Regions from separate parts of the Homo sapiens genome. Here region 1 is linked to region 2. Evidence: fine-mapped expression QTL. A gene starts in region 2. The other region holds a variant in brackets. All regions are shown on one strand. Distances are from middle to middle. Region 1 has its middle 210 kb from the start of EPHA7. Region 2 holds the start of EPHA7 (EPH receptor A7).

The links. PIP is the estimated chance that this variant, and not a neighbour inherited with it, causes the effect.
Region 1: its variant is the best candidate, but not a certain one, in a credible set for the expression of EPHA7 in esophagus muscle (GTEx, PIP 0.51).

The regions. Positions count from the first base shown.
Region 1 is chr6:93,203,614-93,209,002 of GRCh38, reverse strand. No RefSeq gene overlaps it. Among named protein-coding and RNA genes, the nearest start is that of EPHA7, 210 kb to the left of the region's middle. The variant C/G (reference allele first, on the strand shown) is at 2,955.
Region 2 is chr6:93,417,200-93,422,541 of GRCh38, reverse strand. EPHA7 (EPH receptor A7) reads left to right here and starts at 2,983. Exons shown (of 17, transcript NM_004440.4): 1 at 2,983-3,297. The coding sequence starts at 3,201. RefSeq lists a silencer at 2,736-2,935.

The sequences.
Region 1 (5,389 bases), 210 kb after region 2:
TTAGCAGTTCTTATTCAGAGTCCGTCATGTTGCAGACAGATGATGGTTGAGGCTAGAGTCATATGAAGGCTCAACTGAGTTGAATATCTAAGATGGCTCATTCATAAGGCTGGCAGTGTGGGCAGGCTGCTGGCTGAGAGCTTTTTTAGGACTGTTGAGTGAAACACATACATGTAAACTTTGCATATGTCTTTGGGCTTTAGACAACATGGCAATATGTCCCCAGAGCAAGCATTCTAAGAGGCTCAAAATAACTAAAAAACTTCTTATGATGTAGCCTCCAAGGTCCCAAAAGTCATTTTCACTATACTTTGTTAGTCAAGTAAGTTACCGGGAAAGTCCCTATTCACAGGGAAGGGCATTAGGCTCCACCTCTTGATATGAGACTCAGCATGTGTATAGGGACCAAGACTATCTACCAGTTGGCCTGTGGCTATTACAATTCATATCTCTCCCATATACAAAATACGCTCATCTCCATTTCAAGACACACATGTTCTCATTCCAGTACAATATTAGCTCAAAGTCCAGGAGCTCATCATCTAAATCAGGTCCTGGTATGATAAAGGTTTCTCAAGTGTAGTTACTTTCAGCGAAAGCTGTGAACTAAGGAGACAAGTTAGCTGGTTTCCTCACACCCACCACACAATGTGGCTGCAAGAATAGGACAAATGCAATAAACTCTTCAGTGAAAAAAGTTGGAGAGTATGGAATGGGAATAACGTAGCCGTCACTAGTCTAAAGCATTTCTGAATTCTAGCTAGGCATATTATGTCTTTTTTTGTTTGTTTGTTTGTTTTTAATCAGGCCCTGATTCTGTTCCATGGGAGTGATATGCTGTTTTAGTTTCTGCTCTCTGGACTTATGGTCTGTGTTTGTGACTTTCTCAGCCTACTTCCTATTATAGACTTTTTTTTCCTACTTGAATTGTCTCTTTAACTTTTATTTTTAGTAAAGAGAAACAAGTACAGGTTTGTTACATAGGTATACTTGTGTCATGGGGGTTTGTTGTACAGACTATTTCATCACCCAGGTATTAAGCCTGGTACCCATTAGTTATTTTTCCTGATCCTGTCCCTCCTCCTACCTTCCACCCTCTGAAAGGCCCGGGTGTGTGATGTTCCCCTCTCTGTGTCTATGTGTTCTCATCATTTAGCTCCCACTTGTAAGTGAGAACATCAACTGTTTCTTTTTCAATCCAAGATAGCGAGTAAAATTTCCTTGCAAACTTTATGTTTCTGATCAATCACATTAGTGTTCACTCTAATAAACATGAGTGGGATCTGCTGATCTCTTAGATACAAGTTCCTCTTTACCCTGACAGTCAAGGTGCTACAGGACAACACTCTTAGAATTTTTAAAAGTCCTTTTGTCTAGCAGAGTGTTCTAAAAAGCATGTCCTTTGTCTGCATTTGAATATCCAGTTTACCCAGCGCTATTTATTGAAGGAAGATACTGTCCTTTCCCTGATGTGTTCTTGGTGACTTTGCCAAAAATGAGTTGACCATAAATGTGTGGAATTATTTCTGGCTTCTCTATTTTTCTCCATTGGTCAGTGTCAGTTTTTATGCCAGTATCATGCTGGGTTTATTTATTTATTTCTAGATGGGTCTCACTATATTGCTCAGGCTGGTTGCAACCTCCTGAGCTCCTGCTTCAGCCTCTCAAGTATCTAGGACTATAGGCACATGCCACCACACCTAGCTACCATGCTGTTTTTGTTACTACAGCTTTGTAGCATAATTTGAAGTCAGGTAATGTGATGCCTCCAGCTTTGTTCTTTTTGCTCAGGATTTATTTGTCTATTCTGGGTCGTTTGTGGTTCCATACAAATTTTAGGGGCTTTTTTCTATTTCTGTGAATAATGTCATTGATATTTTGATAGGGATTTCATTGAATCTGTAGATAGCTTTGGATAGTAGGGACATTTTAATAATATTGATTCTTCTAATCCACAAACAAAATATCTTTCCTTTTTTGTGAGTTCTCTTCGATTTCTTTCATCAATGTCTTACAGTTTTCATTGTAGAGGTTTTTCACTTCTTTGGATAAGTTTATTCCTTAACCAAAGAGTTTTGTTTTATTATTAGCTATTGTAAATGGGATTACATTCTTGGTTTCTTTTTCAGATTGTTCACTATCGGCATACAGAAATACTACTAATTTTTTTGTATGTGGATTTTGTATCCTGCAGTTTTACTGACTTTATCTGTTAATAGTTTTTTGGTGGCATCTTAGGTTTCTATAAATATAAGATCATATAACCTGCAAGCAAAAATAAATTGTTTTCTTTTTTTCCAATTTGGATGCATTGTATTTCTTTCTTTTGTCTAATTGTTCTGGCTAGGACTTCTAGTAATATGTTGAATAGAAATGGTAAAAGTGGGTATATTTGTCTTGTTCCAGATCTTAGAAGGAAGGCTTTCAGTTTTTCCCTGTTTAGTATGATACTATCCATGGGTTTGTTATATATGGCCATTCCATTACTGTGTTAAGGTATGTTCCTTTTATATACAGTTTGTTGAGAATTTTTATCATGAAGGAATGTTGAATTTTGTCAAATTCTTTTTTTAACTACTGAAATAATCATATGGTTTTTGTCCTTTATTCTGCTGATGTGATGTATCACATTTATTGATTTACATATATTGAACCATCCTTGCATCCACAGGATGAATTCCACTTGGTCATAGTGAATGATCTTTGAATGTGTTGTTGAATATGGTTTGCTAATATTTTGTTGAGGTTTTTTGCATCTATATTCATCAGAGAGATTGGCCTGCAGTTTTCTTTTTCTATTGTGTCTTTGTCTGGTTTTGGTATCAGTGTAATACTGGCCATACAGAATGAGTTTAATAGTGTTCCCTTCTTAATTTTTTTGGAATAGTTTGAGTATCACTGGTATTACTTCTCCCTTAAATGTTTGGCAGAATTCAGCAGTTAAGCCATTAGAT[C/G]CTGGGCTTTTCTTTGATGGAAGACTTTTCACTACTGCTATCTTGTTTCTTATTATTGATCTAGTCAAGTTTTATGTGTCTTCGTGGTTCAATCTTAATAGGCTATATGTGTCTAGAAATTTATTTATACACCAAAATCAAATCAAAATGGAGTAAAGATTTAAATGTAAGACCTGCAAGTATGAAACAACTAGATGTAAACATTGGAAAATTTCTCCAGGACATTAGTGGTCAGAGAAAAGAATCCTTGAGTAAGACCTCAAAGGTAGAGGCCAAAGCAAAAATGGACAAATGGGATTATATCAAGCTAAAATCATCTGCACAGCAAAGGGTACAATTAACAAAATGCAGAGGCAATCTACAGAATGAAATAAATTATTTTCAAATTATTCAATTGACAAGGGATTAACAACCAGGGCACACAAGGAACTCAAACAACTCAACAGCAGAAAAAACAAATTATCCAGTTAGGAAATGAGCAAAAGATCTGAATAGATATTTCTCAAAAGAAGATATATAAATTGCCATCACGTATATGAAAAAATGCTTGACATCACTAATCATGAGGGAAATGCAAATCAAAACCACAATGAGATATCATCTTATCCCAGTTAGAATGTGACTGTTATTAAAAAGACAGAAAAGTAATAGATGCTGGTGAGGATGCAGAGAAATGCTAACTGTTATACACTGTTGGTGGGAATACAAATTAATACTGCCACTATGGAAAACAGTATGAAGATTTCTCAAAAAAAAAACCAAACTAAAAATAGAACTACCATATGATCTAGTAATCTATTACTGGATATATATCCAAAGGAAAAGGAATCGATATATTAAAGGGATACCTACATTCCTGTGTTTATTGCAGCACTATTCACAATAGCAAAAATCTGGAATCAACCTATATGAACATCAATAGATGAACAAATTTAAAAAGTGGTACATATACACAATGGAATATTATTCAGTCATAAGTAAGAATGAAATCTTGTCATTTGCAACAACATAATGAAACTGGAGAACATTATGTCAAATGAAGTAAGCCAGGTACAGAAAGCAAATGTCATATGTTCTCACACATATGTGAAAGCTAAAAAATTGATCTCATGGAGATGGAGAGTGTAATGATGGTTACTAGAGACTGGGAAGGGTGGTGGGGAGGGGGAAATAAAGAAGGGTTGGTTAATTGGTACACAAATACAGTTAGAAGAAATAAGATCTAGTGTTTGGTGGCAAAATAGGGCAACTATAGTTAACAATAATTTATATATATAAATAAATATTTTTGTATATTTTAAAAGAACTAGAAAAGTGGGCTTAGAGTGTTCTTAGATTGTGTTAGATTGTAACACAAAGAAATAATAAATGTTTAAGGTGATGAATATCCCAATTACCCTGATTTGATCATTGAACATTGTATACTTGTATCAAAATATCACAGGTACTGCATAAATATGTACAACTATAATGTATCCATAAAAGTTAAAAATGTGGTCATTCAGGACTACTCAGAAAAAAATTTTAAAAATTGGGAAATTATATCTGCAAGATTCATGGATGTTTCATTGTTTATTTCTTAGAGGGTCTTTGAACATATTCTTAAATTTTTCTAAGCTCCAATAAAGGATTGTAGAGTTGCACCCTTGACTTTGTCTTTACCATGAGGCCATTTCTTGCTTCGAGAAATTTTCACTGGCTAGAAAGACAATCCTGGGCCTTCTATAATTCCAGTTTAAACTTCTTTCTCTCTCTTTTATCATTTGCTGCTTTAAAAAAAAAAAAAAAGTTGTTACTTTCATCATTCTGCCTAGAAATCTCCTTAGCAAAAATAATAGGTTGGCATATTCTATTTTCTATGTTCTCATAGGTAGATAACTGTTGCCCAACTTCCTTCCATTATATAACAAGAGGGCACCTCTTCTACAGTTCTGATAATGACGTCCTTCATTCTTCACAAATAGTCTTCTCAAGGCTCTTGTATCTTCTGCCTGGCTTCCAGTCTCAAAGCAATGCTAATTTGTTTCAATTTTTTGTTGCAGCGGGACCTCATTTTGAGACATAAATTCTGTTTTAGTTATGTATTTCTGGGAAAAAAATTACTTGAAATATTAGTGGCTTGTAACACCCAGTTTACTTTGCTCACAGCTTTGAAGGTCAGGAACTTGGGAATAATTTGACTGGGAGATTTGTCGCTGATTTATATGTAGTCATTCAGAGCATCTAGGCCAGAAGATGAACTTCCAAGATGAGCTCTTCACTCATATGTCTGGTGTCTCAATTTTCCTCATCCTTTCCCTTGTGGTTTCTCATCCTCCAAGGCCTTGCCGCATGTCTTGGGCTGTTTACAGCGTGGTGTTCTCAGGTAGTACCACTTATTACATGGCACATAGCTTCCAAAAGGAAAGAAGCAGAAGCTCCGAGGTCCATGTTCA
Region 2 (5,342 bases):
TCATTTAGAATGTGTCTTGAATTTGGACATTTCCCTACATGTACAGTCATGTGATTATTGGTAATTATACAAATAAATAATACAAAATGCATTAAAATTGGGTATATCTCCTTAGTATCTGAAGAGAGGCGTTTTTCATCTTTCCACTATACATTTATTATAGATGTTGCAACAGAGGGGATATAAAATTGAAATATTAAGGTCTTAGTCTCTGTTTCCATTTACTTAAAATTCACTAAATATATGTGGACGACGCTATCAACTTAGTTGTACAATGAATGCATAAAAATGTAAAACTAGTTTTCAGAATTATTGCTTTGGCGCACAGGTGTTGGTCTCATACACTATTTGGTATTGCTCAGGAAGACAAGTTCCTTTTGAATTCACTTTATATACAAACACATCGCATTATTAAAAATAATTGATTAGAAATAATATGCTTAAATCATAAAATGAAGCTAAAATAAATTGTAATGGTGTGAGGAAGTTCACCATTATGTTATTTTAAAATGAGAAAGTTTTGTATACTGATAATTTTTATGTCAGTGGCTTCATGTACAAATAGGTCTATATGCTTTATCATTAGTCAAATACAGTCGAGTGTAAATTTATATATTAATCATATACTGTATGCTGAACACTGTCTTCTTGACTGTCATTTATTTTTATTTAAATGCTCCGAATTCTTTGTCAATATATCTAGATACTACAAAAGAAAGAAGAGAAGTTTGAAAAACCTAAAAATCAGTATCACTGTGCAGCTATGCAGGGAGAACTGTCAGCAGCCTGGCACATGTGCATTTAATGTGAAGCTTCTTGTCTCTAAAAATAAGAGTAAAGTTACACATGCCCCTGTGTCTGACAGAGAGAAGGGACACAAAAAGAGGACTCACTATACCACCTACACTCATCAGAGGAGTGAAGGATGTTACTTCTTTGGTTTCCTGGTTTTAATGGAAAAGTATTTGTATTCACATCATTGAGTATTAGTCATTCAATAGATGAAAGGAATATTTTAAACTTTAAAGGCCACCTTGGTGTCATTTTAAGAAGTGGGGATGAGACCCTGGGGAAAGTGTTGAAATCCTGGAGAATTCGTTTTAACTATTAGAAGTGGTTTAATATTTGTAAGTTTGTAGTTCTGTGAGTTCTAAAGACTAAGTGCAGGGATTTATGTTTTTAACTCTTATGTTTTAGTTTACAAGTTTCATCCTTAAATCATCTATTTGTGTAAATAAAGCTTCATCTCCTCTATAACAAGTGTGTTCTCCCCATATTTTTTTTTGTCTCTTTCTAAGGTTAATCTATTACGCATTTACATTTTCTATGCATCCTTTAAGGGACACTGAAGATGCTTTTTGATACACTTTCTAAAATATTAAATAGGCATAATGGCTAGGAATATGTAACATTGAAGAAATGTTTCAGAAACTACAGAATCAAAGAGGTTTAAAGAATAAATTTCATATCTCTCTTCCATGTTATTTTATTAGGCAAATAAAAACTACAGGAGACAATTTAACATAAAATACAAATAAATATCTGGGGGTTGTCATCTTAGAGAACTCCCTACTATAAAAAGCAGAAACAACTCAATTTACTTTATATTTCCAGATAGAAAGGTTGGAAAAAGTTTGGAGCCTTATGTGAGATCAAACTTTGGATCTATCGGAAATAAAAGGAAATCATAAATGACTGAGAAATATTTTTAAAGGAAGAAATTATAGGACAAAAAAAGAAATTCATCTTAAACATGTGATCAAGTTACTCTGTGTGACCTTTGAAATTGAAGATTTGGCAATTAAAATTTTAAAGTTCTTCCTCTTATTACCTACCTCTTGAATACAAAGTGTCCGAAACTGCCTAATGGAAAACAGATTTCTCTACGCAGCCTTCCTTGCCGTTCGGGTTGAATGAATTCAACTGGAGATATTGGTTATGACTTTTTTTATTCTTAGTTTCTCTTTGAAAGATAAGCATTGAATAATTCCTGAAAATGGTAAATACTTGCGAAGAGAAAGGTCTTGCTTTATGAATTTAATACGTAGTGGCATTCTTTAAAATTCAGTGTAATTTATGCAGCGAAATGGAAAACTATCAAAGTGGAGGCAATCCAAGGAAAACCTTAGAAAATGATAAACGCGTAAAAAAACGATACGCAACCATCAGAAGGTTCTCTCCTAATGTCTCACTTCGCTCAACAAACTATGGTGAAAAGACAGGGCGGAGGAGAAGGGGCGCTTAAAACAAAAGACTTCCTTTCCCACTCCCTTTTCCTCTGTTTCTTTTGCCAGAGCTTGTTGCAAACTCTTGGAAACATTGTTTAAACATAATACACTTGGTTACTTTATTCTTTCAGGGATTGTGGTGGGTGGTACCTAAAACTGACGGCTCTTGGAGTAACAGAAAAAGAGAAGTAGAAACTTTTCAAAAAGGCAAAAAACAAAGTTACCCAGCCCGCGGAGGTTCTAACAACAAAAAAGTAAAACACACTTTACTTAAAGGCACAGCTCATTTCACTGTCCGGGCTCCGTGCTTGGTAGCTGAGAGAAGGCTTGCTTCGCCTCTGGTTTCTAAAAGATCGCGCGGAGTACAGCTATAGAAAAGAGTGTAAGTTGGGAGCGTTATTCTCGGATTTATTCTGCTACGCGAAAGCTGCGGTTGCTAAAAGCAGAGCGTCCAAAGCAGCACACACCTCGGCTACCATCCTCGTTCTCCTCTGAACATCCAGCGCGAGCTCAGAACCTGGAGGGAATCCTGGACCAGCAACCTGACTCCGCTCGGCACCGATTGGCTCCTGCCTCGGACCCCGCCCCCGTGGCCGGGGCGGCCATTTCGCCGGGACCCGCCCCTTGGCCCTGGGAATCGCCTCCTGGCAGGCCGGCTGTGCCTGCCACTCAGCCCGAGTGGCGGAGGCTCTCAGCTCGGAGCCCCGCCCCCTCCCCCCCTAATTGATATTATTGGAGTGTGGAGCAAGCGGCCGGTCTGCAGTCGGAGACTTGCAGGCAGCAAACACGGTGCGAGCGAACAGGAGTGGGGGGGAAATTAAAAAAAGCTAAACGTGGAGCAGCCGATCGGGGACCGAGAAGGGGAATCGATGCAAGGAGCACAATAAAACAAAAGCTACTTCGGAACAAACAGCATTTAAAAATCCACGACTCAAGATAACTGAAACCTAAAATAAAACCTGCTCATGCACCATGGTTTTTCAAACTCGGTACCCTTCATGGATTATTTTATGCTACATCTGGCTGCTCCGCTTTGCACACACAGGGGAGGCGCAGGCTGCGAAGGAAGGTAAGGTGATGGGAAAGCAAAGTTTGTTCTGACTTATTTATTTAGATGTCTACCTGCACAAGCCAGCTCGTCCGCGGCGCTGCCGGCCGCGCCTCCGGCGCCGGGCGACCCTCCCCCGCCGGCTCCCCGCCCCCTCACCGCTGAGGCCGCTCCTGGCGGACCAGCGAGCGCGAACCAGGGCTGTTCCGAGCCGCCTACAGCCCTGTGCCCGGAGCCGTCCATCCGACGGGTGCGGGATTTCTGGCGCGGGCAGTCTGGAGGGCGTGAGCAGCAACGGGGGTGGGGTGGGGTTGGAGGAACTGCCGGCGAGCTTATTTCTTAGTACCTCAGGCGGGTCACATCTCTCTCTAGCTCGGTCTTCCTTGTCTCCTTATTCGCCTTCTGTGGGAGCTGCGGCCAGAGTTGGGTTGGAGACTGGGAAATGCAGCCCCTACCGTCTCCGCCAGCCCGCCGGCGAGTGGCGGGAGCCCGGAGCCTTCCCAGAGGGACCGAGACTTCGATGAGCTCGGAAAGCTCGGGTTACTAATGAAGTGCTCACTGCGTCGGAGGCGGCGGCGCGGTCCTGCGGTTGGCGCTCGGCCGCCAGCACGGAACAATAACGCCGCGGAGGTGAAGCGCGGCGTGCGGCGCGCGACCCGAGGGCCGGGGATGTCTCCATTCAGCGCGCGCTGCGCGTCGGGCCCAGCGGTCATGGGGGCAGCGGCAGCCCAGCGGGCTTGGTCGGGCCGTGGAGGCAGGGGGCGGGCTGGAGCTGTGCAATTTGTAAGGATGCCGCCTGGGCGACTCAAAGTCCCCAATTATTTGCCCCATAGTGCAGCAATTGAGGAATCCGAGTGCCCAATCCTTGCCAAAGACCTGAACCCTGAGGGTTGGTTCTGGTAGGAGAAGGCAGGTTTTATTTGGCAAGCTGTTACAGATACGCCTGTATATGGTTATGTTTTCCTTCTTTGAACCTTTGACAGAAGGTAAAATACCTTTCGGTGCCTGTAGTTGGAGCTGGGGAAAAATAAACCCTGTCAATGGAAGTCTCTTGCTTTTGAGCAGTGTCACAATCCCATCCCCAACCCCCCTCATCCCGTCGCCCCCCTGGTCTTTCAGGCTGTGTATCTAAGTTTCATTTTTCGATCTGTTAAAAGCAGAAGAGAAATAATTACTTATTCCTGATGTGTAGAGGGAGAGGAATCTGTTATGAAATTTAGGTCATGGTGGTTATCGGGCGGGGTGTTGAGGGGACTTACATATAGGTCCTTGATTCATCTATTTCTGAAAACTTAGTGCACCTTTTCTTTATTCTCATCGTGCACTCCTCTTAGTTCGCTCAAGCCCCCCTCAAACCCGGCGCCAAATTCTAGTCCTTCTTTCAGCCTGACCTTCTGACCCCACTTTCCACATCTGCAACCTGTATAGATGCTGAACCCATTCAGAGAACCCCGTGCCTCCAAGCTGGCGGTTACGCGTTTGCAGAAGGACGGACATCTGCTAGAAACGCACGCTCATCCCCTCCAAAACCACATTTCTACTCCCCTGACGTTAGCGATCAGAAACCTTCAGCCCTGGCATACTGTGATTCCTCTGGAATAGCGGACCAGAGGAAAAGTTTGCACCGCCGCGGCGAAACCCCGCGCGCGAACACACGCAGACTCGGGCTGGAGTTTGGGCTATAAATAACTGCATCACTAGGGGGAGAGGTTCCTGCAGCCAGAATGTCTAGTTCTCTTTGCTCTTCTGGGTGCAAGCTACGTGAAGAGGATTCTGATTCTAAGAGCCTGAATTCTTTAGATGCAGAAGTGTGATGTATAAAAGGCGCGGGGGTGATGGGAGGGAGGGTGGTGATCTGTGGCTGGCGGGCGGCGAGTGCGCCCGGCTTCTAGGCGGCGACGCCTCTAGGGCGCAGCGGCGACCAAGAGCTGGCGTTCTAGGAGTTCACAAGCCCCGAGGCGGCCCGCAGTACCCAAGGGCTAGCGCTGGGAACCGCTTGAAGCAGGTGCCGGGCCTCCTGGGGCATTTGGGGGTGGCTAGAGGAAGATAAGAAACCCCCTTCCCTC